Homo sapiens: one gene and its partner. The protein of the gene in region 1 interacts with the protein of each later gene in a pairwise test. Each region holds a gene or a part of one and is shown on either strand. Other genes may lie near its edges.

Region 1 (16,313 bases):
CCCCACCACCCCACCAGGGTTCAACTGAGGCCTGACCCGTGGATGGAGAGAGGTGCAGCTGGGGAGTCACACAGCAGGAGTAAGGTCAGAGGGCAAGTCCTAGGTCTGCCCTGAGCTAGCAGCAGAACTCAAATGGAAAGGCACTTCCTCTTTGAGCCACAGCCATCCTTTCTGTGCAATGGGGAGATGGTAAGAACCCTGTACTGCCTGCAAGATCCAGCTGGTGAACCTGTCTGTAAATGACAGCCCTGTGCCAAGCGCCAGGAGGCAGGCATCACCATTTCTGTTTTACAGATAAGGAAATTGGGCCTTATGAGCTGTCACGCCCCAGATCATGCAGCTTGCAGGGCCCAAGTGACTCAGCCTCAGTGCTCAGTGATCACATAGGCTGCCTCTCAATATTGGTTCTTGAGAGGCTGCTTACTGGGGTCCCTTTTCCAGGGAGAGTGGCAATGCTGGGAGATCACCTCTGAGGCCTCATCCAACTTTGAGAGCCCACGAGTGTATTAAAATGAGAAGGGAGCTCAAGTCCAAGCTCTTTGTCCCAACTCCCAAGACCCTTACTTAGCACCCAGCCAACCCTCAACATGCCCCTCGCCTTGCGCTCTGGTGGGCACTGGAGGGCACTTCCGAGCTCTGTAACCCTGGGCCTCTATGGGCCTCAGCTTCCTCTTCTGTACAATGAGGACGATAAAAGTTTCCACACTTCACAGGGCTGCTGTGAGGCTTGGAGGAAGCGTTTGGCAGATGGTGGCTGTTGTTGTCCCTAGCACCGCCTACTCATCGCTGGGCTCAAGCTGTGCCCACTCACCCCTACCTCCTCCAAGAAGCCTTGCTAGGAGCCACCCCCAACCTGCCTTGAGGCTGCATGCCTGGAGCCCTTGCACCTACTCCCTTGGCCCTCGTCACAGGCCGCTGCTTTCTGCTTGCTTGTTTGCCTTCCAGCCATGCTGGGCACCCCTTGAGCTCAGGAGCATTGAGCCCTGGGCCTGGCCCAGAGTGGCTGGGCCACTAAAAGCAGGGTTGGATCCTGCTTTCCAGAAATGTCTGAGCACCCGTGCTCTGCTAGGCCCTGCCCATCATGGCGATGCCCACGCCCAGGGTCCTGCCATCCTCAGGCTCAGACTCAAGTGAAGAAGACGGGGCGGCAAATGGCGACAATGGCATGTGTAAGTATCACTGTGGGGGCTGTGGAGCCCAGAAGAGGGCCAGACCCTACCATGCTCAGTGGAGAGGTGGCAGCCCCTCACTGCACAAGTGCCCAGGGCACCCCGGCAGCTCACGCGGTGCCGCCCTCCATGTGCCTGCCCTTGACCCTCAGGCAAAGACGGCTGCAACAGGAAGTGGAACCACTATTACCACACACCTGCAAGCCAGGCCCCGCTCTGGGGACTTTACTGCAGTCACTCTGCTCTTCAGAGGAGCCAGTGCAGGAAAGGAGGCCCTGCAGGTCTGGTCCCCGCCAGAACACTCAACCAGCCTGTGGACTGGCAGGATCTGAACTCAGGCCTGCCGGGTCCCACCTGCAGCTCTCTCTGGCCCCTGCCATTGAGCTACGCACCACCCTGTCCCCACCTCATCATGTGCAGATGACTGTTCCAATGTGCTCTGATCATCCAAGCCTGGGCACACGGGCATCACAGCCAATCACATGCAGCTACACACACCCTTGCCCATGTGCCAAGCACTGGGACATGCATGACAACAGCTAGGTGACAGTGGCTGTCACAGTTTATTACCACATCCATTCAGTGGCCCTAGGAGCCCGTCAGCACGACTGAGGAGGAAATGAACTCAGAGGGGGTCAGCGATCTGCTGATCTGGGGTCTGACCCGACCTGAACCCTGCCTCAGCCAGAGCTTTTAGCCCCTTCCCTCAAGCAGAGCCCTCCCCACAGAGCAGCACAGCCCACACAGGGCAGTCAGAGTTTGCTGGCGGAGGTTGGATTTGCCCTGAGCTTCAGAGGGGAGGGAAGCGGGCAAGGCGCTCTGTGGGGACAGAGCAGGAGCAAAGGCTGGAGGCAGAAGTGCAGGTGGGGAGGGGTCAAGCCAGGTGGCTCTGGGATTGAAGGGCAAGCCCAGGGGCAAGTCACGCAGGCTGCGGAGTCAGGGGGCCTCCAACCCAGACTCAGGAGTGTGGGGCTTGAGAGGAAGGAGGGAGGCGTGTGGGGTGCTGGCAGGGAGAGGTGGAGCCATGGAGGGAGGCAGGGACTGACTTGGGTAGGGGAAGTGGGGATTTCAGAGGGGGATGAGAGGGTGAGGATTCTCAGGGGAACAGGGAAGTAGTGAGGAGTGAGGAGCTCAGAGATGCAGAGGGTGGGGGGGAAGGGAGAACTTCAGAGCTGACCAGAGCTCTCAGCCCCGAGGCCCAACACCTGGCCCCAGTGGCGTGTGACCAGAGCAGGACTGTCCCTTTCATGTCTCCACAGACCCTGAAGCACCTGGCACAGCATGCTCTGTGACGCTGGCAGAGAGAGGGGGAGAGTGAGCGATCCAGCCTGAGGCCAAGCCCCTTCATGGCCCCACCGGCCCTCCTCCCTAGGAGTCCCAGGCTCCAGGAAGTTTGATCACCCCACTGGCTCGGCACAGACGGCCCTGGCTCACCCTCCACAGGCCTCCACCCCAGCGCCTGTGGGAGCCTCTCCAACAGAGGGAGAGCAGAGCAATCAGCCGAGTGTCAGGCAGGCCAGCGGGGGCCAGGCTGTGAGCCTGAGGCCCCTGGGCGGAGCAGGGTGGCACCTGGGGAGAGAGGAACGGGGACGCCGGAGAGATGTCCCAGGAACAGAAGCTGCTAGCGACGAAAAACGTCATTCATCTGGCAGAAAGAGCCGAATCAAGGCCCCCCGCCCATGCTGAAAAAATCAAAGAACAAAAGAAGGAAGAGAACGCACGGAGGGACCACAGATATGGCCAGGGCCTCCAAGATGGAGGGCAGGGTTTTTCACAAGTTACTTTGACTTGAGGCACTCAGAGCACAAACAACCAAACAGGGCAGAGTAGGAATCCACAGAGCCAGGTCCAGAAACCAGCCACCTGGCAAGGAGCAAGGAGGTCCCCCCTGGCCAGGAGGAAGGCTGCCCTGCAACAAGATGGCAGGCCTACCTGAAGCCTGAGCCCAGCCCGCCACAGCAGGGCCCAGGGTGCGGCACTTGTGGGCCTCTGGCCTAGATCCAGGATAGACATTCTCAGAGCACCTGCAGCCACCCAATAGGGCCTCACCTCTCACTCATGCCAGGGGTCCCTTGAGAACTCTCCCCACGACACCCACCCTGGGTTCAGTTAGAGCTTTGGAGTTGGCATGCCTGGGCCTACAGTGCCCTGGGCAGCAGGGACACGCTCCCCTTCCTAGCATCATAGGGACTGCACAGCCCCCAGCTTTGCTGTGTCCCAAGTGTACTCAGCATCTTTCCCGCAGCTGTGCTCCCTCGGGTTATCCCTGACTCCTCTGGTCCTCTCCCTCATGTAAAGACACCAAGGCCACGGATTCTACTTAAATCTCTCTGCCCATCCCTTCTCACCATCCCCACCCTCAAGCTGGGCATCATCTCATCTTCTGCCTCAGTGACCAACTGCCTTACAGTGGGCTGTCAGCCTTAAGTCTTGCCCCTCTTCCCTCAATAATGAGTCCACAGACTCCTTAAGTGCCTCCCTTTACCCATCTGTGAAATGGAGTAACTCCTGGCCCCTGTCAAGGCTATGAAGATGCTGGCAGGGCACAGTGGCTCACAACTGTAATCCCAGCACTTTGGGAGGCTGAGGCAGCAGGATCACTGGCATCCAGGAGTTCAAGACCAGCCTTGGCAACGTAGCGAGACCTCGTCTCTACAAAAAATAAAGAAAATCAGCTGGGTGTGGTGGCACGTGCCTGCAGTCCCAGCTACTCAGACAGCTGAGGTGGGAGGATCACTTCAGCCCAGGAGGTTGAGGCTGCAGTGAGCCATGACTGTGCCACTGCACTCAGCCCAGGCAAAAGTGAGACCCTGCCTCAAAAAATAAAAAGAAAAATAAAGAAAAGAAAAAAGAAAATGCTTTGAAAGCTGCAAATGGCTGGGCGCGGTGGCTCACACCTGTAATCCCAGCACTTTGGGATGCCGAGGCGGGAAGATCACGAGGTTAGGAGTTTGAGACCAGCCTGACCAACATGGCGAAACGCTGTCTCTACTAAAAATACAAAAATCAGCCGGGCATGGTGGTGGGCGCCTGTAATCCCAGCTACTCAGGAGGCTGAGGCAGGAGAATCGCTTGAACCCAGGAGGCAGAGGTTGCAGTGAGCCGAGATTGTGCCATTGCACTCTAGCCTGGGCAACAAGAGCAAGACTCCATCTCAAAAAAAAAAAGAAAGCTGCAAATGGCACAAAAATGGGAAGTGATGTTTTGAGAACAAGCAGTGAGGGCGTTAGACCCTGAGATCTGGGGGGATCCAGCCAGAGCCCAGGCCTAAACAGGAGGCAGGATTCTCATGTTTGGAATCTGGGTTTTTACCTAGCAGGAAACCAAGAAGGTGTCGTCATCTTCCAAATGGGCCCCTTGGAAGCTGTGCTCCTATTCCCGTGGGACCCCTGCCCTCAGACTTTGGAAACAACAATGGCTGCAAGGCCAGAGCTAGGCGCTCTGCGTTTAACTCATTTGCTCCTTGTAACTCCCAGGGAAGAACACTCCTGTTTTGTTGATGAAGTGAATAGAGGTCATCTGCCCAAGTCACACTTGGGATAGGAGGTAGAGTCGAGTTGAGGGCCCAGGTGTGCCTGACTCTAGAGCCTGGAGAAGCATCTTTTGGGTGACAATCTCCATTCTTTGAAGAGAATGGGCCTGGTTTTCAGAAATGGCCAGTTTTATGGACCCAAATCTGTGGGTCTATAGGAGGGGACTGTGGGAGGAATCCCTCTAGATATTAGAAGTTAAAAATAAGACATGGTAGGCCAGGCGTGGTGGCTCACACCTGTAATCCCAGCACTTTGGGAGGCCAAGGTGGGCAGATCACGAGGTCAGGAGTTCAAGACCAGCCTGGCCAACATGGTAAAACCCCGTCTTTACTAAAAATACAAAAATTAGCTGGGTGTGTTGGCACACACTTGTAATCCTAGCTACTCAGGAGGCTGAGGCAGGAGAATTGCTTGAACCTGGGAGGCAGAGGTTGCAATGAGCCAAATCGTGCCACTGCACTCCAGCCTGGGTGACAGAGCAAGACTCCGTCTCAAAAAAAAAAAAAAAAAAAAAAAAAAAAGACATGGTAGGGGCCCACAGAACCAGGTGGATTCCAAGGGCCATAAGCAAACCTGGAGAGGGAGGCCAAACCTGGGAATTTGGCAGCAGCTTCTAGAACAGAAGGATTGCCTTTTTTTAAAACGGCAACATCTTCCAGATTGGTGGCGTTTTGTAGACTATGTGACCTGAGGCAAATAAGGCCTTGCTACCTCTTGTATCTCTGGGTCTCTGACAGATGAGCAAGAGAGAGCAGAGGTAGGACCGTGGAGAAGTGGGCCAGCAGGTTAAGTGGTCAGTGATGGAGGCCAAGGCTGCTCCCACATTGTCTCAGGGGCAAGTTGTGGGCTCTCAGGGCGTCTTGGGTCAGGGACCCGGGCACGAATGAGATAGGCCTCTGGGGAGCTGCCGGCCAACAGCAAACTGTTGGAGAATTCCTTTTGAAGAGGGCCTGGGGCAGACGCCCTGCTCTACCTGGCTTCCAGAACTTCTTGGCTGTCATCCAGTCCCTCTCGCCATGCTCTGAGACTGTCTTGCTCTCTGAGTCCTCCTGGTCCATGGGCTCGCCCACCCACTGCAGGCCATAGTCACTGAGGAACCGCTGTGGGAAAGAAGGGGGAGATGCGGGGCACCGTCAGCTCAGCCCCTTCCCAGGGAAAGGCAGTGTCAGCCCAAAGCCCAGCCTCAGTCTGCAGGCAATGGGGCCCCCAGAGCTGACCAGACAAAGGGATGAGTAGGGGGATCTTGCCATTTCCTGGCTGTGACCTTGGAAAGCCACCTCAGTCCCTAGAGCCTCAGACGACTCCTCTAATAAAATGGAGTGACAGTTCCTGCCACATAAGCTTGTGAGGAGGGCTCAGTAAGATCACTCAGGTCAGCGCCCAGCCCATGCGAGGGCTCGGTAAGGTCAGCCTCCTTGGCTGCAGAAATCACGTGGCCTGGCCCAAGTGTGAGAAGGAGGCAGGGCTGAGGGATGTGAACCATGTGCCAGCCTCCCTAGGGCTTGGCCGCATGTCCCCTCTGCCACAGGAAACTTCTGGACTGTCTACATGTCCACACCCCGACTTCTTTTCTCAAGCCACTCTAACCTGGCTCCATCGCCATACCTCTCTGAAACTGCTCAAGGTGCTGCAACCACCAACCTACCCGCTGCCAAGCGCATGGGCACATTTCTGTCTATCTTTCACCATCTGCTAGTTTTCCTCCCATCTCCTGGGCTGTTCCTTTCCAATTTCCTTCACCGTTTCCCCTTCCTATCCAACACCAACTCATGGGGGCCCAGCTCCATCCACACGCTCTCCCAAATATATACGACAGAACCCAAGTTTGTATTTATGCAGATTTCACCCGAGCTCCAGACTCACATTTCCAACCGTCCACACTTGGATGTCTAATGGCTGTGGCTCTTGTCCCCCTGTCAAACCTCCCCCGTGCCAGGTTTTCCTGTCTCCAGAAATGGCACCCCCTCCACCTGAGAATCCTCTGTCGCCCATTCCTCCAGGATGACCCACAAGGCCTGTGGTGCCCCCTCCAATGCAGCCTGGAACCCATCCACTGGGCTCCATCTGCTGCCACCACCCTAGTTCAAGCCACCGTCATCTTTCTCCTGGACAATCCAGGGGCGGCGCCTGCTTCCCCCGTCCTCTCCTCACCCACACCACCCAACCCCACAAAGCAGGGTGGTCTTTTTGTCATGCCACCTCTCAAACAGAAGCCTTCCAATGGCTTCCCATTTTTTCGGGACAGGATCCAGCCAGAACCACGGGCGGCTCCAATGTGATAAGGCCCCCACGACCTCTTCTCTTTTCCCGTTCTTCTCCTTCCTCCACACAGCCACCGACCGCAAGCCAAGTTATGTGGCGGGAAGTGGCACCTTCCCTGTCTAAGGCCTGGATCCTCTCACCCCATTCCCCTCCTCACTCACCAGACATCATGCCCAATGTCACCCCCGCAGGTGGTCCCCCAACTTGCCTCTGTGGTGTCACCCATTTCATCAAGTCACAGCACTCTCTGTACTTGTGTACCTGTGTACTCGTTTGTTCCCCTCCCCACAGACTGGCAGCCTCATGCAGGCGGGGGACTATGTCTGTCTTGGTCATGCTCTGCCCCAGGCCTGCCCCAAGCAGATCCTCCAGATGAGGCTGTTAAATGAATGAAGTGATAACTGTGTGGCGGAGACGCATGCAAGGGCAGTCATGCCCCTGCCCCGAGGCTCTGGTGCAGCCCTCACCGCCTGTGGCCACTGCTCGGGGACAACCCCAGGTATGAACAGCTTGGAGTGGGAAGGGCTCTCAGCTGCAATTGGAGGTTTGCTGCCAAGGTTTTAAATTAGATTGGGACTTTGGAAACCAATTCTGCGTGGAGAGGGAGAGAGGCTGAATCCCAGGAAGAACTTCTGGCAGGGCCCATGCGTGCCTGGGACCCTTCTCTGTGCCTGGTGTCCCTCTAGTTCCCTTGCTGTTTGAATGGGTCTGTGAGCGGGGGAAAGAAAGGTGACTGGGGTCACTGAGTCCCCAGTGAGCAGAAGTCACAGCCAGAGGCAGCAAATTGCTTAACCAATTCAGTGCTAGGTCCTGGGTGCACAGTGACATACAGGAGGAAACTGCTCCCTCCGTCGTGGAGTTCAGAGTCCCACAAGGGAAGAGAGATGAGGCACTGAGAAAGCTCGGGATGGAAAACCTGCCTAGGAGGCCCGGGGGATATGACTGAGGACAGTGGAACTGACCTGGGGGAGGTGGGGAAACATTTCAGCAGAGGGAACAGCAACAGCACGGCCCAAGGCCCTGAGGTGGGAAGCAGCTCCATGAGGTCAAAGACCCAGAGGAAGGGCCTCATGGCTGGAGGGGAGAGTGGTTCAAGCTAAGATGAAGAGGCATGCAGGGGCCAGCCCGCAGGGGCCACAGCGAGGACTGTAGAATTCAGTTCAGTGGGAGCCATGAGGTCTGCTAAGCAGGGGAGAGGCATGTTCAGAGGGCCCAAAAGCAGGGGTGTGCCCCAGCCCCAGACACCTCCCTGGCTCTTTAAAGTCTGGGCCAGTCCTGGGTAGGGAAATGCAGGGCAGGGTCCCTGGGTGGGATGTGACGAGGAGAGGCCCAGAGAGGTGGGCTCGGACCCAGCTCCTGAGGAACATGCCGTGAAGAGCTGGGGACTGCTGGCTGCCCGCATCCCCCGGGGCCCAGCTCTCTCACCTCCATCTCCCTGACCTGCCGCTGCAGCTGCACACACATCGTCTCCAGTTCCTCCTGCCGCTGCAGGGTTGCCTCGGCTTCAGGGAAAGACAGGGACAGGCTTCAGCTGCCCCAGCAAGACACTGCCAGGTCACCTCTGCCCTGAGGGTCATCTGGAGAAGCTGTTCTGGGGATCCCCCAAGAACTGCCTCTTGGCCCCCCACCTCTCTGGCCTCTCCTCTGACCCCGTGGCGGTGCCTTGATGGGCCCTAGGAGGCTGCCACTCCCCTCAGAGCCTCCTCTCCTCCACACTTCAGATGGGACTCGGTCCCATGTAGGAGGGCATGGAGTGACTCCAGCACTGTCCTGGATATGCTGCAGCCCCTCTGTGGGCTCAGCTGTCCAGACCCCACCAAGTAGTCAGCTTGATGCTCTTGATGCCAGAAGCCATTGTGAAGCTTCCAGGAGCCCTGGGCCCAGGGGAGGTGCCTGACTGGGGGCGCAGGTCAGCCCTCCAAGAGCCCCCTACCTGGGTGTGGCCGGAGGGTCTGCACCAGGTCCTCTAGGGCCGCTATCTTCTGATCCTGTAGCATAAGACACAGGGTGAGCACAGGGCCTGTGGTTCCCAGAGCCCTGCCCAGACAGGAAGCTCCAGAGCTTTGCCTATGTTGGATGCTGGGGAGCAGCAAGCCCCTGCCACCCTTTGGCACAGCCACTTCTCCCGGACCTCAGATAACCCTCGCAGTTCCTCTGAGGTAGGGAGAGGTGCGGCCCACACCTGAGGACCCCCACATCTGAGGGTGCCGCGCTCTGCTCAGCAGTCCACTGTGCCACCCAGTCCAGGGTCTACTGGGTCCTGCTCAGCTGAGGGGAAGACCCCCCAGCCTCTCGGCTCAGGTCACAGGACCTAGATCAGGCCCAGGCCACACCTGGTCCTCGAACTGGGCAGGTCAGTGTGGTAGACGGTTCTAGAATCACCCACCCTAGTCCAACTCCTGGCCTCCCCAGCCCAGTCCCTCCACCTCTCAGACCGGCCCCTGGCCCTCTCCCACCTGGAGCCCCACCTTGGACAGTATCTCATCAGTCTGGGCCTTCACCTGCTGCTCCAGGTCCCACAACTTCCTCGTCATGAAGGCCATCAGCTCCGAGTCATGGGATGCAGGGACTGCCAAGCACACAAAGTCTTTAGAGCCCAGACCTAGAGCCGAGGCTGAGTTGTGGGGGGGAGGGAGGAGGATAGGGGTCCCAGGAATGGAAATGAAGGTACTGAGAGCAGCTCCCACTGGCATCATAGGAACTGTTCTAAACACTTCATGTAGATCAACCCCCTGTAATCCTTGAAACACACCCAGGAGGTAAATGAACTGTTTTAGGAAACTGAGACACAAAGGGATCAAGTAATTTGTCCAACATATACAAGGAAGTGGTGTAACATATGGGTGACATCACCCTGAAGCATTGCCAAGAATTTCACCCTCGATCTAATCAAACCTCCAAATCTAGTGTCCAGTTGGTACGCAAAACAGCAGATAGAGGAGTGAGGCAAATACCCCACGGGCAAACTGCCAGACAAAGCCAGAATGCGGGGTGCTGTAGAAAACAGTAGCCAGGGCCGGGCATGCGGTGGCTCATGCCTGTAATCCCAGCACTTTGGGAGGCCAAGGCAGGTGGATCACTTGAGGCCAGGAGTCCAAAACCAGCCTGGCCAACATGGTGAAACCCTGCCTCTACTAAAAATACAAAAATCAGCCGGGCGTGGTGGCAGGTGCCTGTAATCCCAGCTACTCGAGAATCGCTTGAACCCAGGAGGCGGAGGTTGCAGTGAGCCAAGATCGCACCACTGCACTCCAGCCTGGGTAACAGAGTGAGGGACTCTGTCTCAGAAAAAAAAAAAAAAAAAAAAAAGTATGAAAATGGAAAAGAAGAGAAACCTACAGGAAGAAGCAGGCCTTTTCCTTTTCTTCCCCTAGACAGTGTCCTTTCTATGTATGAAGCAGGAACCGCGGCCATCATCCTACAACCACATGAGGCTGACATGTCAAGGCAGGTTCAGTGGAAAGATGGAGAAACCTGAGCCCCTGATGATGTCTTGGAGTCACTGAATTAACACCCCTGGAGCTGCCTCTTTAGGATTTCTTTGCATGTGGGATAACAAAACTTCCTTAATGTTCTTGTTGGCTGAGGAAGGGTTTTCTTTGACTTATAGTTAAATGCATCTTAATTGACAAACATTTGGGAACTGTCTACACATGGAGTGCAGGTGAGCTCACTGGGGCACAGTGGACACAGAGGAGAATCCAGGCCAGAGGAACATCACATTGAAAAGCTGAGGGCCTGGGTGCAGTGGCTCGCACCTGTAATCCCAGCACTTTGGGAGGCCGAGGCGGGCAGATCACTTGAGACCAGGAGTTCGAGACCAGCCTGAGCAACATAGAGAAACCCTGTCTCTACTAAAAATACAAAAATTAGCCAGGCATGGTGGTGTGTGTCTGTAGTCCCAGCTACTTGAGAGGCTGAAGTGGGAGGACTGCTTGAGCCTGACAGGTCGAGGCTGCAGTAAGTAGTGATTTGCACCGCTGCACTCCAGGCTGGGCAACAGAGCAAGGCAGTCTCCAAAAAAAAAAAAAACAAAAAAAAAACCTGAGAGAAAAAAGGAGGTGGTGATGACAGCTAAGAGACAGAGCCTAGAAGCAGAGGGTAATGGGAGGGCAGCAGCTTGGTGCCTAAGAGCTTGGTGGAGGTCCTGAGAAGGAAGGAGCAGTGGACAGTATAGGACACTGCTGGCAGAGAAGTAAAATAAGATAGGCAAGTCCTCATCTGTTACCTTGGTAGGGACAGATATTGGCTGGGAGTGGGAGAGGAGGGGATGACAGGGGAAAGCAGGGAGAGGACACCTGGAGCTCTTTCAAAGAGAGAACCTGGTTGCCATGGTTACTACTGAAAGTGACCTGGCTGGGTATGGTGGCTCATGCCTGTAATCCCAGCACTTTGGGAGGCTGAGGCAGGAGGACTGATTGTGCCTGGGAGGCTGAGGTTGCAGTGAGCCATGATCGCACCACTGCACTCCAGCCTGGATGACAGAGCAAAACCCTGTCTCAAAAAAAATAAAATAAAAAAGAAAGTTGACCCCAGCCAGGGTATAGGAGATCTTGGCTTTGTGGTGAAATGGCCGCAGAACCTTAGGCCAGGCTCTTCCTGTCTCTTTTTCCACCTCAATTCCCTCCTCCGGTAAAATGGAAGGGGCCTGAGGGAGAATCATCAGGCCCTTCCCTATGGCTGGCCTCCTGATGGGCAGCCACCACACTGAGCACCTCGCGTGACAGGCGCTGGCCAGGGGCCCTCCACCGAGGAGCATCTCATTGAATCCTCCCAACACGCTGCCCTCGCTGTTCCCATGCCCACTTCACAGAGGAGGCCTCAGAGACAGAGAGATGCGAAGTTGCTTGCTCAAGATACCACAGCTAGTGAGCTAGTGGAAAGTTCTAACCTTATCCCCAGCATCCCCAGATCCCGCCCAGCACTCTGCAGGGCTCATCCCTGCCTGCCCATGTCTCCCCTTTTCTCAGACCTGCTAAATCCCCACTCTGGGAAGCCACCCTGATTAGCCCCATCCCACTTTAGGTGCCTCCATGAGCTCAGCATTGCCACAGCCCTCTGCCAAGCTAAGCAGACTGTCTAGGCGACTTTGGGCCTTGCCAGAGCCCTGCAGAAGCAGGAAGCTGAGCTCTACCCTCAGACTTCATCCCTCTCTGACCCTGAATCCTGAGCCCACTGATATCACACCTGGTAACTATAGCCACAGCCTGGCCTGGGGCTGGGGCTGGGGCTGGGCCTCGGCCTCCTGAGCTAAGGGTGGGGCTTGTGTGGCTTTATGCCAAGCCAGGTCCCTGCCACAATCAGCCAGGAGTGGAAGCAGCTGCCTCAGACCAAACAGGCGAGAGGAAGGGCCATGCCTCCCTAGGCCTTGCCCCGTCTCTGGGGCCCCCTCCTGCAGCCAGGACCCAGACCCTTCAGGCCTCTGCTCTCACCTTGCCGACTCACAGGGGCACCTATGCCGCCATAGCAGGAAGGGACTGAGATCTTTTCTTCTGAGCCACACCCATCACTCAACATGTCCACCTCATCTTCTGCAGACAGGGATGCCTAGGTCACCGCTCTGGGGCGGAGACCCAGAGGAAACTCAGGCCCTGGGCCCTCGCCAGTGTGACGCGGCCTATGCACTGTGCCCCAGGGAGTTTGAGGAGAGAGAATTCACAAGGCTGGGGAGCAAGGATCCAACCAGAATGGGGCTGTTTTGGAGTTCTTCCAGTCCTGCTCCCAGGGGGACTGGCATGGCCAATGCCAATGCCATGGTGGAGAGTTGGGGGGCAGGGATCCAAAGGCCTGAGCTACAAGAGTCAGGGTGGCAATGTGTGGACAGGCCTCCCGGGAGAAAGGCTGTCACACTGGAGGAGGCTGGAGGGGGAAGGGGGGCTGGGATCCAAACCCCTGGGCTGGGTAATCTCTTGGCCCTCACTTGGTTTCTAGGCACACACTGGCCAGTCCCACAGTGGGTCAAGGGGTTCAAATGTGAGTGGCAACATCTGTGCCAAGGGTATGGGGCCTCCTAATCTGAGAGCTTCCAGGAGGGAAGCCCAGCCCTCAGGGAGGACAGCATGGGAGCTGCACAGAACACGGTGGAGGCCGCTGCTCCAGCTGACAAGGGCCTTTCTCGTGTGATTTCTCTCCATCGGTCCAACTGTAGGAGGTGCAAGCACATGAGAGGCGAAGAGGGCACGAGGGCGGGGCACACTTACCATCTCCATAGATGCGGATTCCTCGCCTCCTGGGAACCCAGGCAGGAAGAAGGAAGAAATATAAGTTAGGGCCCCTGGAATGATACCAGGGATAAGGCTCTGGGCACCGGACTTCAGCCAAAGCTCAAAGAGATGGAAGCAGGGCCTCTAACTCCTGAGGACTTCCAGCCCCAAATCCCAGCCCCAGCCTGGGGTGAGACAAGGGACAGGCTTCGAGGTGTCTGACTTCACCCAGTGGAGAAGGATGGGGAAGGGGTGAAGAGCAGAGTCTTAGGTGGGAAGACTACAAGGCTTGCAAAGCCCATGAGCTCAGCCCCAGCTCTGCTCTGCAAAGGCTGTGAGGCCTGTTGCTTAACCTCTCTGAATCTTCTAGGCCTTAGAATGACTCAAAGTGGGGCCAGGCGCGGTGGCTGGTAATTCCAGCACTTTGGGAGGCCGAGGTGGGCAGATCACGAGGTCAGGAGATCGAGACCATCCTGGGTAACACAGTGAAACCCGTCTCTACTAAAAATACAAAAAATTAGCCAGGTGTTATAGCATGCGCCTGTAGTCCCAGCTACTGAGGCTGAGGCAGGAGAATCGCTTGAACTCAGGAGGCACAGGTTGCAGTGAGCCAAGATCGTGCCACTGCAATCCACAGCCTGGGCGACAGAGCGAGACTTGGTCTTTAAAAAAAAAAAAAAAAAAAAAAAAAAAAAGACTCAAAGTGGTATTCCAGAGAGCAAGAAGGAAGAGAGGTAAAAAATGTTTTGAAAACATGAAAGTGCTAGACAGATGTAAAAGATTCCCTTTACTGAACCCCACACAGGGCCTGGCCCAGGATAGGTCCGTAGACCATCTGTGTTTGCAGAATTAATCAATGAACAGTGAATGAACAGATGGGATGCCAAGCCACTCCTACAGGGCCCATACCTTACTAAAAGCACAACCCAGTTTATGCTCAGATCCAAAGTTGGGTGCCCCAGAAGAAGGTATAAAGAAAAAGACAGTGGTCAGGGAAGGCTATGTGGCCCTTCTTTGTATTCCCCAAGACACTAGGAGTCACTGTCCTCTGGCCATGGAAGGATAGAAGAGGATACAGAGGCGGGGACAGAAAGACCCCTGAGGCTGGCTCCTTACCCAGGATTCATAGGCTCCGAGGGCAGGGGCACTTTTCGGGTCTTGCTAAGGGAGGCCAAAGGTGAGCTCATAGTTCTACTTCTAGAATCCAGCTGTCAGGAACTCCCTAGAGGAATGCAGGAAGTCAGCCCCTGGGGACAGACTCAGGGCTCCAAGCCCAGGGGGTAGCCTGAAGTTTCCACTTCCCTGGCTACTCTTCCTAATGGGAAGCGCTGTCTAGGCAGCAGTACCTTTTGCCTCTTCCACTGTCTCCACAGAGGTTTCTGGAAGTTTCTGTTATCTGCCTGCTCCTCTGGGTATACGGCTTTCTGCTCTGAACTGAGAGACCTTTGGCCTGGTGGTGCTTGGGAAAGTACTGTGAGGGTGGGATGGGATGCAGAAATGAGTCAGAAGCCTGGAACTTTCCCAAACTTAGAGCCTGAAAATGCTACTACCCAGGAGGCTGTCCGTCCATCAGCCAGCTGGGTGACACAAAGCCCAAGTATCTCCTTCCCTCCCACCAGAAACCAGGTGCCACTCCCAACATCTCAGAGCCAGAGAGGCCAACCCACAGGCAGGATTCAATCAAGACACAGGCCGAGGTGGGTGGATCGCCTGAGGTCAGTGGTTCGAGATCAGCTGTCCGACATGGTGAAACCCTGTCTCTACTAAAAACACAAAAATTAGCTGGGCGTGGTGGCGTGCTCCTGTAGTCCCAGCTACTTGGGAGTCTGAGGCACGAGAATCGCTTGAACCCAGGAGGTGGGGAGGATGCAATGAGATGAGACTGCACCATTGCACTCCAACCAACCTGGGCAACAAGAGCGAAACTCCATCTCAAAAAAAAAAAAAAAAAAAAAGACACAGTCCATGTGACACCAAGGTTAAGATGCCAGGTTTTGCCACTCACTGGAGTAACCCACCCTCAGTTTCTTTTAGTATAAAATGGGGGTCGTAATAGTACTGGCACAGGCAGGGTTCTGAGCAGATTCAGAGATAACAGAGAAGGTCTAGCCCAGCGCCAAGCTCAAAGGAAGCACTGAAAAATGTGAGTTGGGGCTGCTGTTGTTTTTGCTGTTGCTGCCACATAGGAAGCACTCGTAAATGTTAGTTTCCTTTCCTTTCCTCTTCCTTCTGGAAAAAGGAGTGCACCTGAAGGACATAATCGAAGGCTACTACTCTATTCAGTAAATGACCTCAGGTGATCCGCCCCCCTCGACCTCCCAAAGTGCTGGGATTACAGGCATGAGCCACTGCACCCAGCCTGGACCAAATTTTTTAGGACAAATCCAAGAAGTTCCACTTTGAAGATGTCTGGTTCTGGCCTCAACCCTACTTCTGAAGTCAGTCAGCAAGGGAATCTATGCTGCCTGGAGGCAGCCTCCAATGCCTTCACTGCAGAGTTTGAGAATCATGCCCTGCCCCTTCCTTGGAAGGAGCCCTCCTCAAGGATCAGGCCCAGAGTTTCTTCACCCCCAGCATCCAGCCTCCCAAATCTGTCCCCACCCTGCCCCAGCCCCTGCCCTGTCTGGGCAGCCTCACGGGTTGTATGGCCAAGGCTCCCTTCATTAGTTCCCATGTGCTACCAGAGAGATCTTAAAACATAAAGCAGGCCGGGAGCGGTGGCTCATGCCTATAATCCCAGCACTTCTCACCCACAGAAAAAAATTCAAAATTCTGGCCAGGCACGGTGGCTTACACCTATAATCCCAACACTTTGGGAGGCCGAGGAGGGTGGATCACCTAAGGTCAGGAGTTCAAGACCAGCCTGACCAACGTGGCAAAACCCCATCTCTACTAAAAATACAAAAATTAGCCGGGCTTGGTGGCAGGCACCTGTAATCCCAGCTACTTGGGAGGCCGAGGCAGAAGAATTGCTTGAACCCAGGAGGCGGAGGTTGCAGTGAGCAGAGATTGCGCCATTGCACTCCAGCCTGGGTGACAGAGCAAGACTCCATCTCAAAAAAAAATTCATAATTCCTTGATATAGGTGACCTGGTCCCTGCTTATGTCTCCTGACCTCATCTCCCATCTTGCCGCCTCCCACACTT
Region 2 (16,313 bases), on another chromosome or scaffold:
TAGCGTTCAGTTCTATAGTTCAGTATAGTACGAACTATATATGCACCTCATGCAACAGATCTCTGTAACTTTTTCTTCCTGCAAACCTGAAACACTATACCTGTTGAACAACGCCCCCTTTTCCCCTCTCCCCAGCCCCTGGTAACCATGATTCTACTTTCTGTTTCTAAGAGTTTGACTACTTTAGATACTTCATATAAATGGAATCACTTTTTGTGATTTGCAACTGGCTGATTCCACTTAGCACAAGGTCCTCAAGGTTCATCCATGTTGTAGTTTATGAAGGAATTTTCTTCTTTTTTAAACGCTAATCATCCATTACATGTGTATACCACATTTTCTTTATCCATTCATCCATTCTAGTGTCTTTGTTTTTGACTTATGGGTTTCCGGAAAAGACTGATGAGAAAATATATTTTCTATTAACCCAAGAGAAAAAGTGATCTTGCATGCTGGAATTTTTAAGGATGGTTTAGGTTCTAGAGACTCAAAGAGAAATCGTAGAAAATGCAAAGGGAAATTAGATTAAAAAAAAAAACAGTGACCACATAAAGAATATCTCCCATTATATCCTCTCTGAGCACGAGAAACTATTAAACTACTTTCAACCGAGCAATAAGGGCCCATAATAAAAAGCTGTTGCCCTAGTTTTTTTACTGCCCTACTCAATACCCCCTCTTTCATACCCTCAAAATAGCTCAGCTGAGAAAAGAAACAGTCCAATTTTACAGAAGGGAAAAATAAACAGATAAAAGGATAAGCAAGAACTCTTTTCAACACAGAGTAAGGTACTGGTTAGAATTTTAATACTGTATGGAGGAGTCTAACCCCAGAGTAATCCCTGGCCCATTTTGGTGTTAGTAAGTGGATCCCAGTGTTCGTTTGTATCGAGGTAGTTTGAAGCACGTTAGGGATATTCATAGCCTTTACTTCAGTGCATTATTATGAAAGAATCTAAAGTATCTTTGCATTTACGTGATTATGTTTTCAGTTGGTCTGCGGAGCTATTATTAAATATGTGGCCATAACGTGTACAGAAAAATCTCCAAGTAAACTGGCATTTAACTTACCAACACGTTAAACCCCCATACATAACTTCCTTTAAAAACGATCACACTAAAAATCCCAGCATTTAAAATCCTGAAGTTTTCGGTAAAATACGCTAAATATAGCTTGAAATAGTAAATAATCCCCCCAAGGCGACATTAGCAAATTAATTGGTGTGTGAACAAAGAACTCTTTCTGCAGCAGCATGAATGTTGCCTTTATTTTTTCTCACAAGTATGATTTTAGAAAACAGCTGTAGCGCATGTTGACAAATGAGAAAGCGGCAGACGTGGTAAAGCACTTTCGGTCAAGGCCAAGAGGGGGGGAAATCGGGTTGCTGGGGCGGCACTCGGGCTGGAATCCCTAGCTTCCCTAACCTCCTTTTTCCAGTCCGGAGTGAGCGGGGGCCCCATCGCCCCACCCCCCTTTCCTGGCTCTGGTTACGGCCTTGCGAGTTGAACAAACTTGCTGCAGGCGGATTGGCGGCTGGGAGCTCTCGGGCTGGGGCGTTGTATTTATTAATTTATATTCCGCGGCGCCCCGCGCGGGCGGCTCCTTTGTGTCCAGCCGCCGCCACCGGAGCTCCCGGGGCCTCCGCGGGGAGCGCGTCCCCCGCATCCGCCCGACCCCCGGGGCTGGCACGTGCTGCGCCCGGTCCGCTGAGGGGGCGGAGGCCCCGATCTCCCCGACCCCCCTTCTCTGCTTAGAGGAGGAGGAGCAGCGGCAGCGGCAGCAGGAGGCGACAGCTGCCAGCCGAGGAGGCGCGGCGGAGAGGGGACTGCGGTCAGCTGCGTCCACTTGGGGCTGTGCGGCGGTCCCGCGCCCGGCGATGTTCCCGGGCACTCCCTGAGTAGCGGCAGCTTATCCCCCGCCCGCTAGCCCGCCCTGGTCCCCGGCTCGCTCGCTGGCTGGCGCGGCCCCGGCCCCGCTCTGCGTCGGCCCCGCCGCGGTGGAGGCGCGCGAGGGGGACGCGGCCGGGGATGAGCGGATTGCGGGTGAACTCGCCGCCCGGGGGCCCCGCGAAGCCGTGAGCCGCTGCTTTTCTCCGAGTCGCCGCCCTGCCCTTGGATTTGAGATCATGTACGTACGCGCCGCCGTCCTGCCATTGTCTCTCTCCAGCGCGTGCCGTGCGCCCCAGGGACAGGGGCTGGTGCCCATCCTCGCCGCGCGCTGTCCCCCGCACTTCCTGTTCCGAGGAGAGACCCGCGCGCTGACCGTGCTTCCCTTCTCCCCTCGCCCCCTCTGTCCGTGCAGGTCCATCCACATCGTGGCGCTGGGGAACGAGGGGGACACATTCCACCAGGACAACCGGCCGTCGGGGCTTATCCGCACTTACCTGGGGAGAAGCCCTCTGGTCTCCGGGGACGAGAGCAGCTTGTTGCTGAACGCGGCCAGCACGGTCGCGCGTCCGGTGTTCACCGAGTATCAGGCCAGTGCGTTTGGGAATGTCAAGCTGGTGGTCCACGACTGTCCCGTCTGGGTAAGGAAGAGCAGCTGCTCCGCGCTGAGGCTGAAGAAGCTTTTCTTTCCTTTTTTTTCCCCCTCCCCCTTCTGCCCACTTCCGTGAGTGTGGAGTGTCCGCGTTACATGGGTCAAATTTTTAAACATTTTTGAGAAAATCTTTGGTCCTTTGTTTCACTGGGCAGGGAACAGCCCTGTCAGAGAACACTCTTAGGAAGATAGAAGGCCCCAGTGGGAATGTGGAGCACTTACTGGTACACTTCACGACTGTGGGTTGACCCTTGGTAGGCAGCAGACAGTTGAATGTGCCAACTCCAAGGGACGGGGTCACTAAGTTTCATCAGCAAAAAGCAGTGTTTTTTTATGTCTACCCTATGGGTGATAGTGTAATATTGGTGTTCTAAAAATACATCCCTCTCAAAGCTCAACACAGGCAAAAATACTTTTCACTGGGACAGTTCAGAAATAGTTCCTCTGGAAAGCGGAGGAAAAGACAGGGACTGGGAGTTAATTTTAAATGACTCATTTATAGCACTATTAATTGATCTCTGAAAACTTAATTTTAATAATGCAAATACTCTTTATGTGTTAGCCATTTGTCTTAGTGACTCATAAATCAGAAATAACATTACTAATGTTGTTTGGAAAACTTTTAAAAAATTAAAATTTGTAATAATTGAACAAAATAGTAGTGAAGTGGATAAATTATAGTCCGATTCTTGAGTGTTTGATTAAGGGAGAAAGGAACTTACTTTCTGACACATATAAATATTTTCAGCATACAATAACATTATGTTTGAATGTTTTCCTTTAGTCTTATTTGAAAATCTTTGATTCTTTACTGATATTGGAGTTACGTATGTTTCAGCTAAATGTTACATTTAATAACAGAAGAAAGTTTAGTGCCTGAAAAGATACAAATTATCGTTGTGTAAGATTTCACATTTAAACAGCAATATTAAAAAAACTGAATTAGGACTATAGGAAAGTATCACGCCATTCTAAAAAATGTGTAGAATATACTTGGAAAAATTTCTTATGCAAAGTTCCACATAACAGAACGAAAAGATCACTCGCTCGTGTAAGTTTTCAGTTAAAGAAGAAAGTTATGTTAATTTGGTAAAATAAAAAACAGGCCTTTTCAATTAAGAGATACTATTAAACCCCTAGTTATGATAGTGATGATGCTGTTCATAAGAAGTATTGATGGAGAACTTACTGGTCAGAGTCTATGCAGGCAAATGAAACACTTCTTTTACTTGGGATCTTTCGTTGTGAAAGATCTTACAGCCTAAAAACATGACGGTTCAACATGCAGTTGAATAAATGTTTAGCGAATCGAGTAAATGTAGGGAAAATAAAACTAGCTACATTAGGATGTTAGGATTGCTTTCCCGTATTTAATTTGAGCTGTTAACACTTTCCTGTTTATACTGTTAATTTTGCAAACAGTAATGCTTGTGATCCCATACACTTTGTCTAGTAAAATGAAATCTTCCAAATGGAGAAAATAAACCTCTATAGTACGGATTTTTGCCATATGCTGGTTGTTATGGTTTATCTTGCTAATAACTTTTTGTTTGGTTAGACTCTGGCCCTATTTAAGGCACCAAGTTTGTAACCAGGTACAATTTTCTAGGTTATAATGATCTTCAGATATGAGATTCCATTTCTAGAGTTGCTCTTTATAAGGTGCTTTTCTTCACTTGGTGGTAAGTAAAGCCCATCAGAGATTCTAAAGCTGATTGCATTAATCAACTGTTATTTGACGTATGTACGGAACCAGAATATTAAATATAGCAGAGCAGATAGAGCATAGCCTTTGATATCAAAAGGATCTGATTTCAGATTCCCACATTGCCATTTCAGGTCTGTGTGTCCTTGTTAAATCACTTACCTTCTCTCAGCCTTATTTTCCCTATCTATAAAATAATATGCCTCCTAAAGCTGTGCTGAGAAGTGAATGAGAAACTAGCACGTGTCAAGTTCTAAGTATAGAGGCTGGCATTTAGTAGATGCTCTATAAGTGGTAGCTAATATAAAAATAAAGTGTTACAACTTTAGTTATGTATCACTTATATTAATACTAAGCAAAAGTAAGATTTTCACAGGTCATTCAAGATTTATACAACTACAGTACCAGTACACTGGGGCAGCGATGTTCATACTTCATACATGCAGCCCCACAATCAAGTAAAATAAAATAGTTTCACTGTAGAAATTCAGATTTTTTTTTTTAAAAGATGAGTTCAATTCTCCAAATGTGGCTCCAAGCCTTGTGTTGCATAACCCCGAGAGGAAACCCTGGAACTGATTTACAAGGGGTGGGAGAATTTGATTTTCTTCATAATTCTAGAAATCTTTGGAGTATTTTCTCTTTGGCATAGTTTGAGAAGAGATGTGTTGTTGTTGCCTTGAAGTTGAAATGAGGTAGCTGTGTTTCCCTTCCCTAGTTCTCTTCTATAGATCCTTAGCCTTACCCTGGATCCTTGCCTTATATACTTGGCACTTTTAAAACAAATGTGCTGCAGATTCATTAGATGTAGCACATTATTTAGTGTGTCTTTCTCTCTCTTTCCCATCCGTTTTTTTGGTGTGGTACATTATTATTTCATTTCACGTTTCTATATCTTTTACTGTTTATTAAAAATATTCCACAAAAAGCAGTGAGGTAGTTTAATAGATTTACAGTTTTCTTTGCAGGGTTTGAAGCTCTGATTTGGATTACAAATTAAGTATTTATAGTCTTCACATCCTCAATCCCACAGAGTTAAGGATGCCCAGACCCATTTTTTCATAACATTTTCCCTTAAAGGTCCTCCCCTTCCCCGGATACCTCTCCAGTAACTCTGGAATTTTGAACTATTTGGAATTCAAAAAGCAGCTACTTTTGATTTATTCTCTCAGAGTTAAATGGCTGCTTAATATTGGCCCCACTTTTGTTTAGTTTTTTATCTCATTTGTCTTCCTTGTTATACTTACGCACTCTGTTATACTTGGATACTTTGAACTTGAACGCTGTAACAGATGCAGTTGGAACTGAATGAGCTGTGTGGTTTGGGATTTGGCAGTTTGAGAGTTCTGCTGGGAAGCTTTCCCATTTTTCTGCACTGTGTCCCACTTCCCTTCTGCCCCCTTGCACCCTCTACCAAGTTCAACCCTTTGCCTTTGTTGTTTATAGTCCATATTTTGCCTTTTTTTTTTTTTTTTGGTTCTTTTACCTCCCTTCAAAAATACTGTACACATCCCAGTTTTGATAGGGTATTCATGACAAAAAATTCTGCAGTTCTTGTTACTCTGAGTGTACTTGTGGGAAATGAGTGGCTGGGAGGGTATGGGGAACTGGGGGAGGCACTGATGAGAAGAAGCTCTCTCTTCAGAAGGGCATTGCTGTGTGATACTCCTCCAGAATGTGCCATCGTAGGATAAAAGCTCTGTCACATAGACCTTGGTTGGCTGATTCAAACACTGTTAACCCTGTTTTAGACTCATATTTCAAAGTTTGAACTTTCTTAGCTCAACAGCTTTTGGACCTGTTAGTCAGACCTAGCTATTTTCTTAATCTAGCTTTATTACATCCTAGAAATGTGTACCAAAGGCCACATAAAAAGACAAATGATTAATAGTTAACTAGAATGTGAGAAGAAAACTACTTGTACATTATTTGGTAGTGGAGTTAAGATACCTAAAGATATTTTCCTTACATCACTATTCATACAGAAACTGAAAAATTATATGTAAAATATCAACCCAGGCCAGGCACGGTGGCTCATGCCTGTAATCCTCACACTTTGGGAGACCGAAGTGGGCAGACTGCCTGAGCTCAGAAGCTGGAGACCAACCTGAGCATTGTGGTTGAAACCCCATCTCTGCTAAAGTACAAAAAAATTAGCCGGAATGGTGGTACACACCTGTAGTCCCAGCTACTCGGGAGGCTGAGGCACAGGAATTGCTTGAACTTGGGAGGTGGAGGCTGCAGTGAGCCGAGATCGCACCACTGGACTCCATGCTGGTCGACAGAAAAAAAATCAAAACATTATATTTTTAAGGAATAGTGTTTGTAATAAATTACTTACTGGCCCCAGTTCTAAATAAATATAAATGTTATTAGCTGTAGCACAAAAGTAAATATTTCAGAACTAGAAGAGTTTATCCTGAATTTTTAATTTATGTAGGCAAAATACGTGAATTGAAAATATATTCCTTACCATGTTAACACCTTGTAATACACAGTATCTCTTTTTTTAGTAAAGGAATTTCTCCCTCACCCCACATTCATACTCTTTATATACAGTACTGTCCAAAGGATGGATAAAGTTGAAAAGTATACATGAATTTTGAAAATATGAATAAAGTATATGGAACTTCACAGAATTTAAAATGTATTGCAGTTCAGAACACTGAAAATCCTGCAGTGTCTAACTGGGTCAGAGGAAAACCTTTGAAGCTTCGTTACTCATACTGTTGCTCTTCCATCTAATGCCATAATGTTACACTTTTGAATTTATGAGGTGATAAAAATATAGTGTAATTTTAAAACAAAGGGCTTATTTTTAAGTGCAAATAGTGAAAGAGGTTGCTTATTTTATCTGACTCTCAAGAATTCTCAGGTTCTCCTGTTTAACCATTACATAATTGTCCAGGCTACATGAGTAAGTAAACATTTTTAAAAAGAGAGTTGGCAGACTGCAACACTTTTAATTTCAAGTAGTTACTTATTTTAAAATAATTTTTTATGAATTCCAAAAATTAATGTCATAAATTATTTCAGGATTGATTGGACGATAAGTAGACTAAAGATTGCTATTTGCATTTTGGTTTAGGACATATTTGACAGTGATTGGTACACTTCTCGAAATCTAATTGGGGGCGCTGACATCATTGTGATCAAATACAACGTTAATGACAAGTTTTCATTCCATGAAGTAAAGGATAATTATATTCCAGTGATAAAAAGAGCATTAAATTCAGTTCCAGTAATTATTGCTGCTGTTGGTACCAGACAAAATGGTAAGTATTTAATATTCTTTTTTGTAGTGAGCATGCAAATATTATATATACTTTAAATAGTGCTAAGTTTATTAATGGATAATAGGGTTTGTTTTTGAAAACCAAAATGACTTTGGTTCAATGCCAGCTGCTATCGCTTCATCATTTGATACGATAAAAAAACAACAAAGGAGAGGATCATGAACTTCTGCTGTGATTCCACTGGGTGCAAATCTGTCTTCTAAATGGCTCTTCTACAGTAGTGATGGAAGTCAGCAATTGTATTATTTTGACATATGAGAGGTATTAGGCTGATGCTGAGCCCTAGAAAACTCTTTTTGATGATCTGAAGGTCTACCTGATTGGGAAGGATAGATTGTTCACATGAAGATGTGGGCTTGGGAGCAGGATTTTTAGGTAGATAACAATGAGTGAGCTGGAAACACTGACAGTGCTGCCTAAAAGAAAGGATTGCTTATTCCATGGCTGATAGATTCATTGGGTTCAGGCTGCTTCAGCCATTGCTGCTGTGCATATTATTGTCAGATATCTTAGGGCCAACTCAGGATTCAGTTTGATTTGGTGGTATTTTACAGATCTTCTTAGTGGTATTTCCTAGTAAAGCTATTTTTAAAATTTTATTTTTACACATTATTCTAAAAACTTTTAAATTGAGGTATTGCGAAGTAAAGGACATAAGGTTTACTGATCTTAGAGTGCAGCTAAATGCATTTTTACCTATGTATACAGCCACGCAACCCACATACATCAAGGTATAGAACATTTGCAGCACTTGAGAAGGCTCCCTCATGCTCTTCCCAGTTAATAACGCTCCTCCTCAGAGGTAACTGCTATTCTGACTTCTAACAACACAGATTAGTTTTACCTATTTCTGAACTTCATACAAATGAAATTATATGGTATGTAGTAGTGCCTTAGGTTAGGCTAATTTCAGTTAGCATAATACTTTTGAGATTTGTCCATGTTGTGTTTATCTGTAGTTTGTTCTTTTTATTACTATATATTAGTCCATTGTATGAATATGCCATAATTTATTTATCCATTCTTCTTTTGAGGATGCTTAGGTCGTTACCCAGGAGCGGGATTGTTGGGTCAGAGGGCAGGTATATATATAGCATTAGTAGATACAAGTAAGGCAGGCATGACCTACCCGTGACCCCATATCCCCTCTACTTCCCTATCTTTCTTTTTATTTCTGGTCATGATTCATAAAAGAGTTATCTGCACTTCCTGAGTCCATTTCCTATTCATTCTTCAGTCCGCTACAGTCTGACTTTGACTTTCACAAGTGCACCAAGTTTGTTCTCCCTCAGGGTCTCCAGTTGCTGTGGTCTGAATTTGTTCCCCAAAGTTCATGTGATGGCACAGTGTTGGGCAGTGAGACTTTAGGAGGTAATTAGGGCAAGAGGACTCTGCCCTCGTAAATGGATTGATGCTATTATCTTTAAAGTGGGTTAATTATCATGGGAGTGGGCTCCTGATAAAAGGATGAGTTTGGCCCCCTTCTGCCCTCTGTCTTGTGAGCTCTCTTGTACTTCTGCCTTCCACCATGGGACGATGCAGCAGGAAGGTCTCACCAGATGCTAGCACCTTGATATTGGACATCTCAGCCTCCAGAACTGTGAGAAATAAATTTCTTTTCTTTATAAATTACCCAGTCTGTGGTGTTCCATTATAGAAGCACAAAACGGACTAAGACACCACTTATGTCCTCGTTAGCCAAATTTAATACACTTTAATAACAATTATCTCTTATCGAAGAGATAAGAGATAATAATACTTATCTCTTGTTGAAATTATTGAAACATACCTCTCCCTCCATTTAATAAAGCTACTGGTTCTTTTAACTATCTGTCTCCTTTGCCTTTCTCCCCTCCTCCCACACACACACAGCAGAATTGTTTCCCAGGGTTCCGTCCTTTGACCTCACCTGTTCTTACTCTTCAGCCAAACCATTAACCTGCTAATCTGTTGTCCTGGCTTCTCCTATATAAACACCGATAACTGTTCAGTCTGTCTCTCTGGCTTTAGTCTTGCTCCTGGCACATATCACCATAGACATCATCTTCCTCTGGCCAAATTTCCTGTCTTGGTGAATGATGCCAGTCCTATCCATTCACCCAAACAAGAATCATCCTAGACCCAGCCCGATTCCGCATATCCAGTTGATTAAGAAGCCCTTTTGCTTTTACATTTTAAACAAATCTCAAACTCATTACTTTCTCTTCATCTCCATTGGATTTCGCATTCTAGTCATTTAGTTATTTGTCATGGTGGCCTTCTTTTTGGTCTCTTTAAGGGATGGTTTCAGATTTTGTAGGGCCTCAAACTTACACAATTTGGGAGGTCCTTCATAAGGAAAAAAACCCACAAAATAACAGATACATATATGTACAAAAGTAAATATTTAGAATGATAAGTGAAAGCACAACAAATTACAACTAAAAAGTTGTCAAATACTACAGACATTTTTAAATGTATGTATATATTTTTGAGACAGGGTCTTGCTCTGTTGCCCAGGCTGGAGTGCAGTGGCATGATCATAGCTCACTGCAACCTGGACCTCCTGGGCTTGAACGATGCCCCCCACCTCAGCCTCCTGAGTAGCAAGGACTACAGGCACGTGCCACCACACCCAGCCAGTTTTTTTATAGAAACGAAATTCTGCCGTGTTGCTCAGGCTGGTCTCCATCTCCTAGACTCAAGCCATCTGCCCCCCTCAGTCTCCCAAAGTGCTGGGGTTACAGGCGTGAGCCACCACACCTGGCAACAGATCTTTTTAACAGCCTGATACTTCTTCAACTTTTCTTATGTTTTTTGGGTGACCATAGTCTTTGGTCATCTCTTCATATGATAACCACTGATAGGTTATGGCTGTGTCCCCACACAAATCTCACGTTGAATTGTCATAATCCCCATGTGTCATGGGAGGGACCTGGTGGGAGGTGGTTGAATCATGGGAGCGGGTTTTTCCTGTGCTATTCTCATGATAGTGAGTAAGTCTCATGAGATCTGATGGTTTTATAAAAGGGCAGTTCTGGTCATGCTCTCTTGCCTGCTGCCATGTAAGATGTAACTTTGCTCCTCCTCCACCTTCCATCATGATCATGAGGCCTCCCCAGCCATGTGGAACTATGAGTCCATTAAACTTCCTTTTCTTTATAAATTACCCAGTCTCAGGTATGTCTTTGTTAGCAGCATGAGAACAGACTAATACAACCACTTTATGATATTTTCTATAGAGATGAGAATGATAATCAGTGGAATCTGATTATCAGTTATCACACACTCAACTATACATGGAAGTGACTATAAACCACAAATAGTTCATTAAGCCTAAGGTTAAATTCCCTTTGGCAACATCCCCCAAATGCCCACAGTTACTCCAGAGCTGCCTGATACAAGATGAAGTGATTTGGAGTGGAAAGAGACAATAGTCTTGACTAAATATCTTAGTTTGCAAATTTTACAAAAGAATATGACCATGTGAAGATATATTGCTCAGGTTCTTCCTGGGGCTTGGAAAGGATCCACAAGAAAAGAGTCTTGAAGCTTGAGCTTCATCAGCTTTATGGTAAATTGGCCTCTGGTGTGCTATTCCTGGTTTGTCTCTTTCTGAAATAAATTCTCTCAGAATAGTTATCCTAGAATACAAGTCAGATCATGGCGCTCAATGCTTTGAATTCTTTGAGAACTTTCTTCTTTGCCTCTTATTTTGCAAAATTTCAAACCTAAGAAAGTTGACAAGAATAAGACATTGAACCCTAGATTTTATAAACACACACACACACACTTTTTTTTGGCTGAACTATTTGAGAGTGAATTGTAAACATTATGAGATTTCTTTATTCCTAATTACTTTAGCATGTATCATCTAAGAACAAGGCCGTTATCTTATTAAGCCTAATACAATCATCAATCAAGAAATCTAACATACTATTACATTTTTACTATTATTTAAGATATAATCTGGCCAGGCGCAGTGGCTCACGCCTGTAATCCCAGCACTTTGGGAGGCCGACGCGGGTGGATCATGAGGTCAGGAGATCGAGACCATCCTGGCTAACACGGTGAAACCCGGTCTCTACTAAAAATATGAAAAATTAGCCAGGCGTGGTGGCAGGTGCCTGTAGTCCCAGCTATTTAGGAAGCTGAAGCAGGAGAATGGCACGAACCCAGGAGGCGGAGGTTACAGTGAACCGAGATCGCACCACTGCACTCCAGCCTGGACGACAGAGCGAGACTCTGACTAAAAAAAAAAAAAGAAAAGAAAAAAAAAAGAGATAGAATCCATATTTTCATTTCCCCGGTTGTTTCCTTATAATGTGCTTTATAGCTGGGGTTTATCATTGTTGTTGTCTTTTAACCAATCCAGGATGCAATTAAATATTACACATTACATTTAGTTGTTATATCTCTCAATTCTCTTTTTTTTTTCTTTCTTTCTGTTTTTTTTTTTTTTTTTTTTTAGAAACAGGATCTTGCTGTGTTGCCTAGGCTGGTCTGAACTCGGGCCTAAGCAATCCTCCTGCCACAGGCTCCCAAGTAGCTAGGATTATAGGCATGCATGACCACATCTGCCTTCTAATCTCTTTTAATCTGGAGCAGTACGCCCAGTGGGTTTGGGGGGAGGGACCGTGTCTGTCATAATATGAACATTTTTAATGAGCCCAGGCCCTTTAGTTTGCATAATTCCTTCATTTATGATAAATGTGCTTGCAAAATAGTGATGTTTCTATCGTTCTTCCTATACTTATTGGTTGATATTCTTCTGTAAATGGAGCTTTCCTTTTTCTCTGCTCCCAAATTTTTCTCTTAGAATTATTATGATTCATGGATTTCTATTTTAAATTCAGTATTTTGTGATCTGTTCTGATTATTCTTTTGGATGCTCACATTGCTCCATATTTGCTTGCAGGGAGTCATTTCAAGCTACCTCTAATCAGTTTTTAGCCCCTTCCTTATTTTCTGGCACAAGATATTCCAGGCTCAGACTTTGCCTATCCCAGTCCTAGAATCAGCCATTTCTTCAGGAACTCTGGTTCCTTCTAGGGGGCAATGATATTTAGAAACCAAGGTCTGGGCTCTAGGATGCTCATGACTTTAGGTGTCTTTACTTCTGCGCCCTTTAATTGGCTAGAGCTAGGGATTATACTTTTTATTTAAATTATGGGCACTGATGCCCTTATTTCAATCTGGTATTCGTATCTCATTTCAATAACTTTTTCTTGTAAAATCTTTACCTGAAATACAAGATCCTTCATGAGGTAGCCTCTGACTGTTTCTATAATCTTGCAGGGCACAATCCCCTGCCTTATGTATCAGTCACACTGAACTACTTGAAAAACTTAATGTCTTTCTTTAGGTCTAGGAAAGTCTTAACTGTGTGACTTCAGATATCACCATCCATCCATTTTCTCTATTCTCTTCTTTTGGGACTTTTGTTAGACTGATGTTGGAACTTCTGGATCTCTTCTCTGATTATTTTATCTTTCTTTTATATTTCTTATTGCTTTATTTCTTTGTGTTGCATTATGGGAGAGTTCCTTGGCCTTTTCTTCTGGTTCACACATTAGTTCTGCTGGGTCTGTTCTGCTATTCTGCCTTATTAAATTTTTTATTTCAAAAGCTTTTCATACCAGATCTCTAATGGCTGTTTTCATAAGTTCTTGTTCCAATCTTAAGGATGCAAACTTTTATTTAAAAAAACTCTCAGACCAGGCGCAGTGGCTCATGCCTGTAATCCCAGCACTTCGGGAGGCCGAGGCGGGCGGATCATGAGGTCAGGAGATCAAGACCATCCTGGCTAACACAGTGAAACCCTGTCTCTACTAAAAGTACAAAAATTAGCCAGGCATGCTGGCGGGCGCCTGTAGTCCCAGCTACTCGGGAGGCTGAGGCAGGAGAATGGCGTGAACCTGGGAGGCGGAGGTTGCTGTGAGCCAAGATTGCGCCACTACACTCCAGCCTGGGGGACAGAGCGAGACTCCATCTCAAAAAATAAAAAAATAAAAAATAAATAAAAAAAACTCTCAGGATAATTAATGATGCTTAATAATTCAGTTTTGATTTTTCTATTAAGTTTGGTTTTAAGATGGCATTATAAGTCGTTCTACTTGATGAGATTTTATTTTATGGTATGGATACTTCTTAAACATTGGGGAATTCTTAATTTGCCTACTTTTGCAGTTGACTTTCCTTGTTGGATTGATGCCTTCCTCTTTCTCTGCCCAGCTGCTGTCTGGGGATGGGGGTGTAAGTAGGAAAACACCCAGGATCAACAGGCTTGGCTGCTTCCACTGGGGTTCTCCCACTCATCCCCAGTCATTTGCCTTTGGGCCGCCTCCTCCTTGTTGCTCCCTGCATTGTTGAGCAGGGAGCACTCTAGGTGTGGCTGCAGTGTGAGCCTGTACTCAGAGCTTCAGGAGGCCTCTTCGGTCCTGTACTGCCTGCCTTCATTCTCTCAAGCACTCCTAGTTTCTGGGCTGATGAGGTTTCCCCTCTAGTTTTTGAGTGTTGCTGTGTATTCAGTCCTTCCTGCCTCCCTCCCTGTCTTTCTCCCTCCCTCTCTTTCTCCTTCCCCCTTCCTTCTTTCCTCCCCTCTTCCCTCCTTCCCTCCCTTCTTCTCCTCCCCCCCATTTTTTTTTTTTTTTGAGACAGCATGTCACTCTGTTGCCCAGGCTGGAGTGCAGTGGCACAGTCTCAGCTCATGGCAACCTCCACCTCAGGTTCAAGTGATTCTCCTGCCTCAGCCTCCTAAGTAGCTGCAATTATAGGTATGAACCACCATGCCTGGGTAATTTTTGTATTTTTAGTAGAGGTGGAGTTTCATCATAGTGGCCAGGCTGGTCTCGAACTCCTGACCTCAAGTTATCCACCTGCCTCAGCCTCCCAAAGTGCTGGGATTACAGGCATGAGACAATGCACCTGGCCCCTCTCCCCCTTCCTTCTTTCCTTCCTTCCTCCCTCCCTCTCTCCTTCCCTCTTCTCTCCTTCCCTCTCTTCTTTCTCTCCTCCCCCCTTCCCCCTTTATTTCATCATCTCTGTGATTTGGCAGGGAGGGGAGATCACAGTGTGGGCTTAGCTTTCCATCTTGAAACTGGAAATGAATGTTTTCCTTTCTTCTCACATCCAGTCCCCTGTACATGCTGTATTCTTAACTGTAGTGCCCCTCTACACAGCCCCTATCATATCAGCATAGCAAATTCACACTTATCTTTTAAATCATTACACTTTCTGTGAAGCCTTCCGTAATCCCCCCAGACAGTTAACTTTCTCTCCTCTGTTGTGTGGTGGCTTTGGACATCTTTATTTCAGTGCTTATTATGTTATATTATAACTGTTTGCAGTCATGTCTATCTTCTCTCAGTTGACTATGAGTTTTTATATCATTGCATTTTTATATCCCTGGCACTTGATGTGTGGTAGGTACTCACTAAACGTTTATTCAATGAGTGAATGGTTTTATGGATGATCTGAGTAAGTGAAAAAATCAATTTCACTAACAAGATGAAATTAATTTGCCATACAAGATGTAATTACAAAGTAATTACAAAGCTAAATCTGGCTATTCAACTCGAGGACCTATATTGGCTTCCCCCCATCCATCCCTTGGAATACATGAAACTGTGTTGGGTGCTCTCCTGGTAATTCCCTTGGAACTCTTTTTAACTTTTTGTTTGTTTGTTTGTTTTTTGTTTTAAATAGAGATGGGGCTGGCCACGGTGACTCACGCCTGTAATCCCAGCACTTTGGGTGACTGAGGTGGGAGGATCACTTGCGATCAGGAGTTCAGGACCAGCCTGGGCAACATGGTGAAACCCCATCTCTAGGAAAAATACAAAAATTTGCCAGGTGTGGTGATGCACACCAGTAGTTCCAGCCACTAGGTAGGCTGAGGTGGGAGGATCACTTGAGCCTGGGGGAGGCAGAGGTTGAAGTGAGCAGAGATCATGCCACTGCACTCCAGCCTGGGCGACAGAGTGAGACCCTGTCTCAAAATAAATAAATAAATACATAAAAATTTAAAAAAATTAAAAAAATGGAGATGGGATCTCGCTATGTCAACCAAGCTGGCCCCCAACTCCTAGGTTCAAGGGATCCTCCCACCTCAGCCTTCCAAGTAGCTGGAATTAAGCACACGCCATCATGCTCAGCTTCTTGAAATTCTTTTTAAAGTTAAAAAGAATTCAGCCAAGTATAATCCAGTCTCATTTCTTTCCTTTGTTACACATTTTTGACAACTTTGACCCTATGGATGTCTTCATCATACTTGGCTCTGAATAAATTTTCGGCTTATACTAAATATTGAATCTATCTTGAAAAGAGAATTTTTTTTCAGAATGTGCTTAGAATGTATTCATAGGTTTAAGCTCCCAAAGACAGGCATCCTTTCAGTTATTTCTGAAGCTCTGGTAGAGCCTGGTCCTTTACTAGGCTAGAATTTTTGAAAAGAATTTCTAAAACTTCCAAGCAGTGGCAATGTTGTAAGAATTAACCTGCAGGTTCCCAAAGCCACTACTTTTCAAAGATGTTATCCATTTGAATGTCAGAGTTACATTGTGCTTGCTTTTAAAAAAAAATAGACAGCATTTTATGATAACATCTTAAGCATATAAGGGAAAAAAAGACTATAATGTTAGCTAGAAGTGTAGCACTCATTCAGAGTCACGTGACCATGCCGCACCACAATTTAAAATTAGTTTGAATCCTCTGCTTGTTCCTGATTAAATGGTTAATGTAAATTAATTTAATTTAGAATCGGTTCTACTGCTATAACCAATACAAGCCAGACT

Evidence for each region.
Region 2: the proteins of UBXN11 (region 1) and RHOBTB3 interact in binary tests that used the Homo sapiens proteins (3 or more experiments, as listed by UniProt).

What each region holds. Positions count from the first base shown.
Region 1 is NC_000001.11:26,288,530-26,304,842, forward strand, and holds part of UBXN11 (UBX domain-containing protein 11), read right to left. Parts: intron 14,639-16,313; exon of another isoform or gene 14,514-14,638; intron 14,390-14,513; 5' UTR 14,355-14,389; coding exon 14,284-14,354; intron 13,194-14,283; coding exon 13,165-13,193; intron 12,496-13,164; coding exon 12,397-12,495; intron 9,534-12,396; coding exon 9,433-9,533; intron 8,953-9,432; coding exon 8,898-8,952; intron 8,467-8,897; coding exon 8,390-8,466; intron 5,803-8,389; coding exon 5,676-5,802; intron 1-5,675. UniProt on the Homo sapiens protein: May be involved in the reorganization of actin cytoskeleton mediated by RND1, RND2 and RND3. Promotes RHOA activation mediated by GNA12 and GNA13.
Region 2 is NC_000005.10:95,729,558-95,745,870, forward strand, and holds the start of RHOBTB3 (rho-related BTB domain-containing protein 3), read left to right. Parts: upstream 1-1,778; 5' UTR 1,779-2,125; coding exon 2,126-2,127; intron 2,128-2,135; exon of another isoform or gene 2,136-2,301; coding exon 2,302-2,527; exon of another isoform or gene 2,528-2,545; intron 2,546-7,331; coding exon 7,332-7,518; intron 7,519-16,313. UniProt on the Homo sapiens protein: Rab9-regulated ATPase required for endosome to Golgi transport. Involved in transport vesicle docking at the Golgi complex, possibly by participating in release M6PRBP1/TIP47 from vesicles to permit their efficient docking and fusion at the Golgi.